2 linked regions of the Homo sapiens genome follow. The protein of the gene in region 2 interacts with the protein of the main gene of each other region in a pairwise test. Each region holds a gene or a part of one and is shown on either strand. Other genes may lie near its edges.

Region 1 (3,750 bases), on a different chromosome or scaffold from region 2:
TTGGGTAGTGATGGACAGATCTGCATAGGGTCTCACAAGGGATTTTATAAGGTGGCAGTTCTTGTATGAAGTTACTGAGCCTCTTAATGGCCAAACTGACTTCAGTGCACAGCCAGGGGCTCAGTTACTTTGGCAGTTGATCTGACCTGAACCATCCATGCCTGCTTTCTTCCCTTTCCTTTCTTTCTTTTTCTCCTTCCTCCATTCATCTTCTCCAATTCTTCCTCCATCCCTTTCCCTTGCTTCCTTCCCCCTTGTCCCCTCCCTGAGCCTTGGGTCTGCCTGGCATGTTCCTGCTGCCCACACTGATTTGGTTGTGCTCTGAGGCAGACCCAGGTAGTTCTGAATTGTGCTTTTCAATCTTCTAGTGGTCTGGGCAGTGTGGCCCCAAATGAGCAGGAAGGGAGGGGTGCCCATCTTCTCTAATGAGTCTGGACCCAAGAAGGCAAGGAAGAAAGAAGGCAGAACAAGGATAGACTTATGAAAAAGGCATTATAGCAACGAGCCACAGGTTGCTGTGGGGCCCAGAAGGGAAGGGTTCTTTTGGGGATGGGTCTGTGTGCATGGGGAGGAGCATCCTGTTTATTTGGTTCAAGCTACTTCACAAGGACATGCCCTGTTAATTCACAGTGCTTTTCCCGAAAGCCTACTAGAACTAGGCCTGGTGAGAGGCCCTGAGAAGGTGTATCCTTTTGTCCAAGAGCATCTGGGAGAAGAGGCCTGCCTGACCCAAGCTGCAGCAAAGACACAAGTCTGTAGGTCCAGATGTGGACTCTACCACTGATTTACAAGTAGGAGTTCCTTAACACTTATGGAGGACCTCTGAGACCGACACGGTGCAAGGCCCTGGGGTACAAAGATAAAAAGCCAGAGTCCTCCCCATCAAGGCGCCACGGGCCCTGTAAACACATAAACCGAGGACACACTGCATGAGAGATCACCAATAAACGATGTAGCCATACAGTGCACAAACTGCTCACTCAGTATGTGCTAGAAAATAGCCCCAGAAGGCAAGGCTCAAGAGGGGAAATACAGTTAGGAATGTGGCAGGCTTCTAGCCCGGGCTCTGCCAGTCCTGGCTCTGAACTGCGGTTTTCTCAACCTTGAGATCCCTTGTGTGCTTTTAGTATGCTGAAGGATCACTCACTTCAGAATGCTAGTGAAAATACAGATTCCCAAGTCCGACCCCACTGAATCACAATGGCTGGAGGTCATTCGGGGCCCCGAATCTGCATTTTCACCCCCACCCACCCCCCGGGCAGCTTTAATGTTGGCAGGCTAGGAACCACAGTTCGGATTACTGCTTAACAGGGAGATAATAACCTGCTTCAGACGAGCTAGGTCAGACGAGCAATTCAAGAGCTAACAAGGCAACATGCGCCAAAAGCCTTGTAAACCTCAGGGCAGTACAATTCTTTGCAAATAATAGTAATTCAATCATGCAAATAATAATAATAGTAAACGAACTGGAGAGCGCACTGGAAACGCCGCATAGTCCAGCTGAGTCGGTGCCACCGCCCCATCCACTCCAGCGCAGAGGGACTGTCTCTTTAAGGACCCCCCACCTCCCCAACCGCGTCGCTTCTCCCTTGGGTACCTGGCCCGGCCGGCGGCGCGTGCGTGCAGGGCCTCCCGGCGGGGCGGTCGCGGCGGCGCGACGCCGGCGCCGTTGCGTGCGCGCCTGGCCCTGCCCCTTTCCCGCCCCTTCCCCGCCCCCTCCCCTCCGCGGGGCCTCCCCCGCCCGCGCGGTACAGCTGGGTCAGTGACGCGGGCGCTGCAGCCGTCGCTACCGCCGCGTTCTATTCTCCGAAGCCGGCGACCGCCCCACCTCCTCCCTCCCTCCCGCCCGCTTCCTCTGCCCACAGCGCCGGCCAGAGCGAGCTAGACAAGGGCACGCGGGGCCTCGCCTAGACCCGAGAAGACTGCGGGCGCGCGCAAGCGGCGGCGTGGAAGCTGTGAGCGCCCCCATCCCGGAGGTCTCCGCCGGCTCCCGGGTGAGTTGTCACCGCGGCCCGGGGGCGGCGGGGCCGGCATTGTGCCATCGACGCGCTCGGCCGGCTGTCAGGGGCGCGGGACCAGCGCGCACCGCCCAGGAGTGACGCTGGCCGGAGCCCGGGCCGGCTTCGGCGGCTCCCCGCGCTTCTCTGCGCCGGCCCGCTGTCACCCGGCCGCGAGCCGCGCCGCTGGGAGCCCCGCGCTGGCGTGGCGCGGCCAGCCGGCCAGCAGTGGGGGCTGCGCGGCCGGGGGGACCGGCGGCTGGTTTGCGGCCGGGAACTTGGTGACCCGCGGTCCGGGGCGCGCCGTCCCGCGTCGCTGCCCGGGCAGCACCGGAAGAGCCAGACGCCGTGCCGATGGGTGCAGAGGAGGTAGGCAGAGGCCCTCTGTGCCACTGTCATTACTGCCCTCAGCCCAGCAAAGCTGCGGGGCTTGCGCTGGGGCAGGGCTGGCTTAGAGAAGGTGGATTTCCTGAGGAAATCTCAGAGCCCGCCTGTGCGCACCGCGGCATTCGGGAGCCCCCGCGCCTCGGCTGCTCTTTAATCTCAAAAACTTCTCTTATTAACCAGGCTAAACTCCCCGAAACCAGCTATTTTCTTTCAAAAAGTAGGCACGTACATACAGACTTTCCTTTTTTCGCTTGGTTTTGAGACCCCAGCTATGAGTGTGGATCTGACTCTCCCTCATGGGAGTCGTGGCTGGGGAGCTGCTGAAGTGGAGAAAAGTTACCCTGGACGAATTTAGGAGCAGGAGGGGGAGGTGGTTATGGGGACAGCAAGACCCAGGAGCAAAGAGGCGTCAAAATAAAGTCTTGGGCTGGTTAAAGGGAAGTTGGCGTCTGGGCAAGGAGGCCTAAAGCTGTTGTTCCCACAGAATTTTCTTTCAGTGGCAGGCGACATGCTGGGCTTTGTTGCTCTCGCTAACTGGGCTCCTGTGTGCTCTTCCAGAGGTGCAGTAAGATTACTCAGTTCAATTAGGCCTAGGGATTTACTCCCTTTTTTGATCTACAGAGATGGGAAGTATGTCTTTCCTTCACAGTAGTTAATTCATTTCTTGCTGTTTTCGTTCCTCTGGTGTAAAAACATACATAGGAGTTACGCACACACACCTTTTCTGTTTTGGGAATTCCACACCCAAACTGTCACCATCTAGTGGAGGCTAGTAGAGACATGTGCTTGGCACTGACTTCTGAGTTCTCTGGGTTTTGTGTTTTTAGCTAGAAGCATATTCAACCAGAAATTAAAATTTTCCTGGAGTTGGGGGAGGTATGTCTACATCTCAGGAAAGAAGGTATTTAAGCAGCAATAATATGGAAAGGTTCTTGAGGACTTACTGAGTACCAACCTTTGTGCTAAGGGCTTTACTTTTTTGAACTCATTTAATAACAGACTTTTGATGTAGATATTATTATCCCCATTCTTCTAGTTGAGACCCAAACCAAACAAGTTAAATAACTCGCCCATGTCACATAGGTATCTCATGGTGGAGCCCACAGTCTGAACTACTAGATTATACTGCTAGTTTCTGGTTTGTTTACCTTTTGATAAAATTGAACCTGGAGTCTTTCTAAAACCTTCTGAAAGCACTGCTGCTTCAGGCTGTTTCTCAGATCATGAGCATTCTAAACTCTTTCTCCTGGGTACACACTTACGGTATGTTTGCATAAGATTCATTTGTTCATTCTTTCATTCAGTACTCCCAAGTAGTTATGTGATACCGAATGTATGCCAGGCACTGTGCTAGGTATTGCAGGTA
Region 2 (3,750 bases):
CGTTCTAGGTAGTCCTTGAAATTTAATACGTGCCCCCTTTAAAAAAAATGAACCAGAGGTTCATTTTAAATATCTAGATATCCATTATTATCATAAATAGCAGTAAAAGGTTTTCAAAACTTGGACATAACCTATTTGGCCATTCTCCAGTAAGACTGTTTCTCCGAAAATATGCATGCATGTCTCAACATAAATACAGTCATGCTCTGCCTAACAATGTTTTCGTCAATGACAGACCACACATACAACATGTTCCCATAAGATTATAATACCATATTTTTACTCTACTTTTTCTATGTTTAGATACACAAATACGTTATAATTGCCTGTAGTATTCAGTACAGTAACATGCTTTACAGGTTTGTAGCCTAGGACCAATAGGCTATAGCATATAGCTTAAGTGTGTAGTAGGCTCTACCATCTAGGTGTGTGTAAGTACAGTCTGACGTTTGCATAACCATGAAATCACCTAAGGATGCATTTCTCAGAACATATCCCTATCTTTAAGTGATGCATGACTATATATTTCTTTGGTGACTTCATCTTGGTGTTTGTACTTATGACAGTATTTTAGTCTAAAAGCAGTAACGGAAGTTTACTGCCAAAACTAACCTGTGCAAACTTCACACAATTTGTGCTCCACCTTTATAATTTTTCAGGTAACTTACGACCTATTTCTCCGTGGCGTTGGCTGTTTTCTGTTGTTGTTCCTGTTCTGATCGTCTCTAATGGCCTTAAAAAGAAAAGTCTAGATCACAGTGGGGCTCTAGGAGGTATGTTTTTATTTTGAATGTTTACAGTAACTACTAAGTGCTTGCTTATATAATTTAAATTTATGTTTTCTAAATTCTGAATATATGAGACTGACTACAAATCACAGTTATATATTTTAGACAATGATAAAGTTACATCTTGCTCAGCATTCCTATTGTCAAAATTTCAGAAACTAACGTACACTTTTAGTGTAACATACAAATTAAACTCTGTGATTGATACAAAGTAGATTAATAGGATAGATGAACCTTGACTATTCTGCTCCTTTAGTTTGATTAGTCTTCTACCAGCAGAAACACTGGAGCACTCCTCCTATATGTAAAATAGAGCATTTGGAGAGAATAACTTTTGGAAATTGCTGTTAGTAATCTCAAAACAGAGCAGTCCAAACTTAGTGTTCTGGATTAATTTTCCAAAACTGAGTTGAGAACAGGATATGCATTCATTCTTTTAGCAATTTTTTTTTTCCCGAGACAGTCTTGCTCTGTTGCCCAGGCTGGAGTGCAGTGGCATGATCGGCTCACTGCAACCTCCTCCTCCTGGATTCAAGCGATTCTTGTGCCTCAGCCTCTGAGTAGAGACTACAGGTGTGTGCCACCATGCCCAGCTAATTTTTTCTGGTATTTTTATTAGAGACAGGGTTTCGCCATGTTGACCAGGCCGGTCTCGAGCTCCTGGTCTCAAGTGATCACCTGCCTGGGCCTCCCAAAGTGCTGGGATTACAGGTATGAGCCACCATGCCTGACCCCTCTTTTAGCAAATTTTTATTGAACACTTACTGGTATGTACTACTGTTCTAAAAACTTGGGATAGATCTGTAAACAAAAAGAACGTGGTGTCAGTTCTCATGGAACTTATATTCTTTAGGGCAGATAGATAATAAATAAAATATATAAAACTGTTCAGGTAATGATGAAGTTTATGAGAAAAATGAAAAGATAATTGTAAAGTGTGTATGTTGGAAGATGTAGTGCATTCTTCTGTAAATGGTGTCAGGTGCTTTTCTCTACGGAGGTCATTTTGCACTGGTATCTGAAGAAGCTAGCAATGAGATCTGACAGAATCATGTTCCAGGCTGACAGAATAACAAGTGCAAAAGTCCAGATATTTTAGAGGCTTATTTGAGAGTAAGAATAATAGGGCTCATTTGACTAGAAAATAGTAACGATAGGAAAAGAAGTGAGAGATAAAATTGAATAAACTCTAGCAATGTGCTCTCGTGGTCCTATGGTTTTGTCAATTTTGCAAAGGTCAAAACTGTTGTACTCTTTTTCTTAAAGAGGGAACCCCAAATTATATAAACTTTGGGCTCCACAAGGCCTGGATCTCCCCCTTATTTCATTTTTAGGGCATAGAGAGAATTAAATGCGATAATTTAAAGTCCTTACCTCATTGCCTGGACACATAGCCAACATTTATTCAGTGCTTGTAACTATTATTATTAGGCAGAGTTCTTCAAAATCATGCCAATTCTCTTCATAATTAAGAAATACTGTTTAAGTTATATTGTGAGATTTCTTTTCCTTTTGTGGGGTAATTGAGAATTAAAGTTAACTAGACATACTGATATTTTTATATGAATTTTATTTTACCATATAATCAATAAGTATTAGGAGTGGTTATATTTTATCTATTTAACAAATGCTTATGTCACACTTTCTATGTACCAGGCACTGCTGTTAGCACTTTGGTAGTATTAAATCATTTATAACATAATTTGAACAATCTCTGCTTAAATATAATAACATGGACTTATGCTTTGCTAAAAAAAGTTCTTTCTGGGCTGGTCGCAGTGGCTCACACCTGTAATCCCAGCACTTTGGGAAGCCAAGGCAGAAGGATCACTCGAGTCCAGGAGTTTGAGACCAGCCTGGACAGCATAATGAGACTTCACCTCTACAAAAAAAAAAAAAAAAAAAAAAAAAAAAAAAAATTAGCCTGGCGTGGTAGTGCACACCTGTAGTCCCAACTACACAGGAGGCTGATCGTGCCACTTCAGTCAGCTTGGGCAACAGAGTGATACCCTGTGTCAAAAAGAAAAAAAAAAAAAGCTCTTAGATATCATTGCCTTGGAATTTATTATTCTTATAGAAAAAAAGGTCAAGTCCTTCTTGAAATTCTGTCTTCCTTGGGCTTCTGTGCTGTATATTGTCCTGCTTCTCTGACTTTTACGATCTCTACTGTTGTTTCTTTCCTGCTGCTAGAAGGGCTGCCTTGTAGCCCTTGGACATCTGCTCCTCTCCTATGTTGATTAGAATTAAAAGATATGAAACCTAACACTGCCACCTGTTACCAGTGCAAACTTGGGCATGCTGCCTAACTCCTAGGAGACTCACTTTCTTAATCTCTTATGAAATACCTCCAATAGTAATATCTTATGGACTTATTGGTAAATCTCAAACAAGATATTATATGAGGCAACACATCTTTGTAAACTATACAAAAATGTTCATTGTTAGTGATTATGTAGTTTCAACCATATTTTTATACGTGAATGACTATTAAATTGGCATTGCCACAAACATTTCTTTCTTTCTCCGTACCTCTGCTCACATTACTTCTCCCCCTCAACCTCTCTCCTACCTCATTATATATGCTGATTATTATTATTATCATCTGCATTAATAGAGAAGTATATAGAGAGGTTTGAAGGATGAAGAGACAGTTCTGGGCAGAAAACAATGAAAACTGCAGAAAACTGAAACTAACACTTGCAGAATAAAATTAAATGAAGTATTCTCACTTAAAAAGTTTCTGGTTCTAGGCTTCTTAGTGCTTAATGAAGTATTCTTATTGAATAGGATTCAAATCTCATGAAGTCATTTATTTGCTGCCAGCCCTTAGAGTTGGAAATGATCAAATGTAGTAGTAGATGGAAGCATGTCCTTAACTTACTTTCAGTAGTAACTGATAGTTCTAAAGTCAGGTAGCAAAAATATAATATGCATGTTTCTAAAAATTATCCTAGTGCTATAA

Evidence for each region. The genes of interacting proteins can lie anywhere in the genome.
Region 1: the proteins of TMEM19 (region 2) and SUSD6 interact in binary tests that used the Homo sapiens proteins (3 or more experiments, as listed by UniProt).

What each region holds. Positions count from the first base shown.
Region 1 is NC_000014.9:69,609,835-69,613,584, forward strand, and holds the start of SUSD6 (sushi domain-containing protein 6 precursor), read left to right. Parts: upstream 1-1,761; 5' UTR 1,762-1,994; intron 1,995-3,750. UniProt on the Homo sapiens protein: May play a role in growth-suppressive activity and cell death. May be involved in the production of chemokine molecules in umbilical vein endothelial cells (HUVECs) cultured in THP1 monocyte LPS-induced medium. Plays a role in preventing tumor onset.
Region 2 is NC_000012.12:71,688,932-71,692,681, forward strand, and holds part of TMEM19 (transmembrane protein 19), read left to right. Parts: intron 1-659; coding exon 660-773; intron 774-3,750.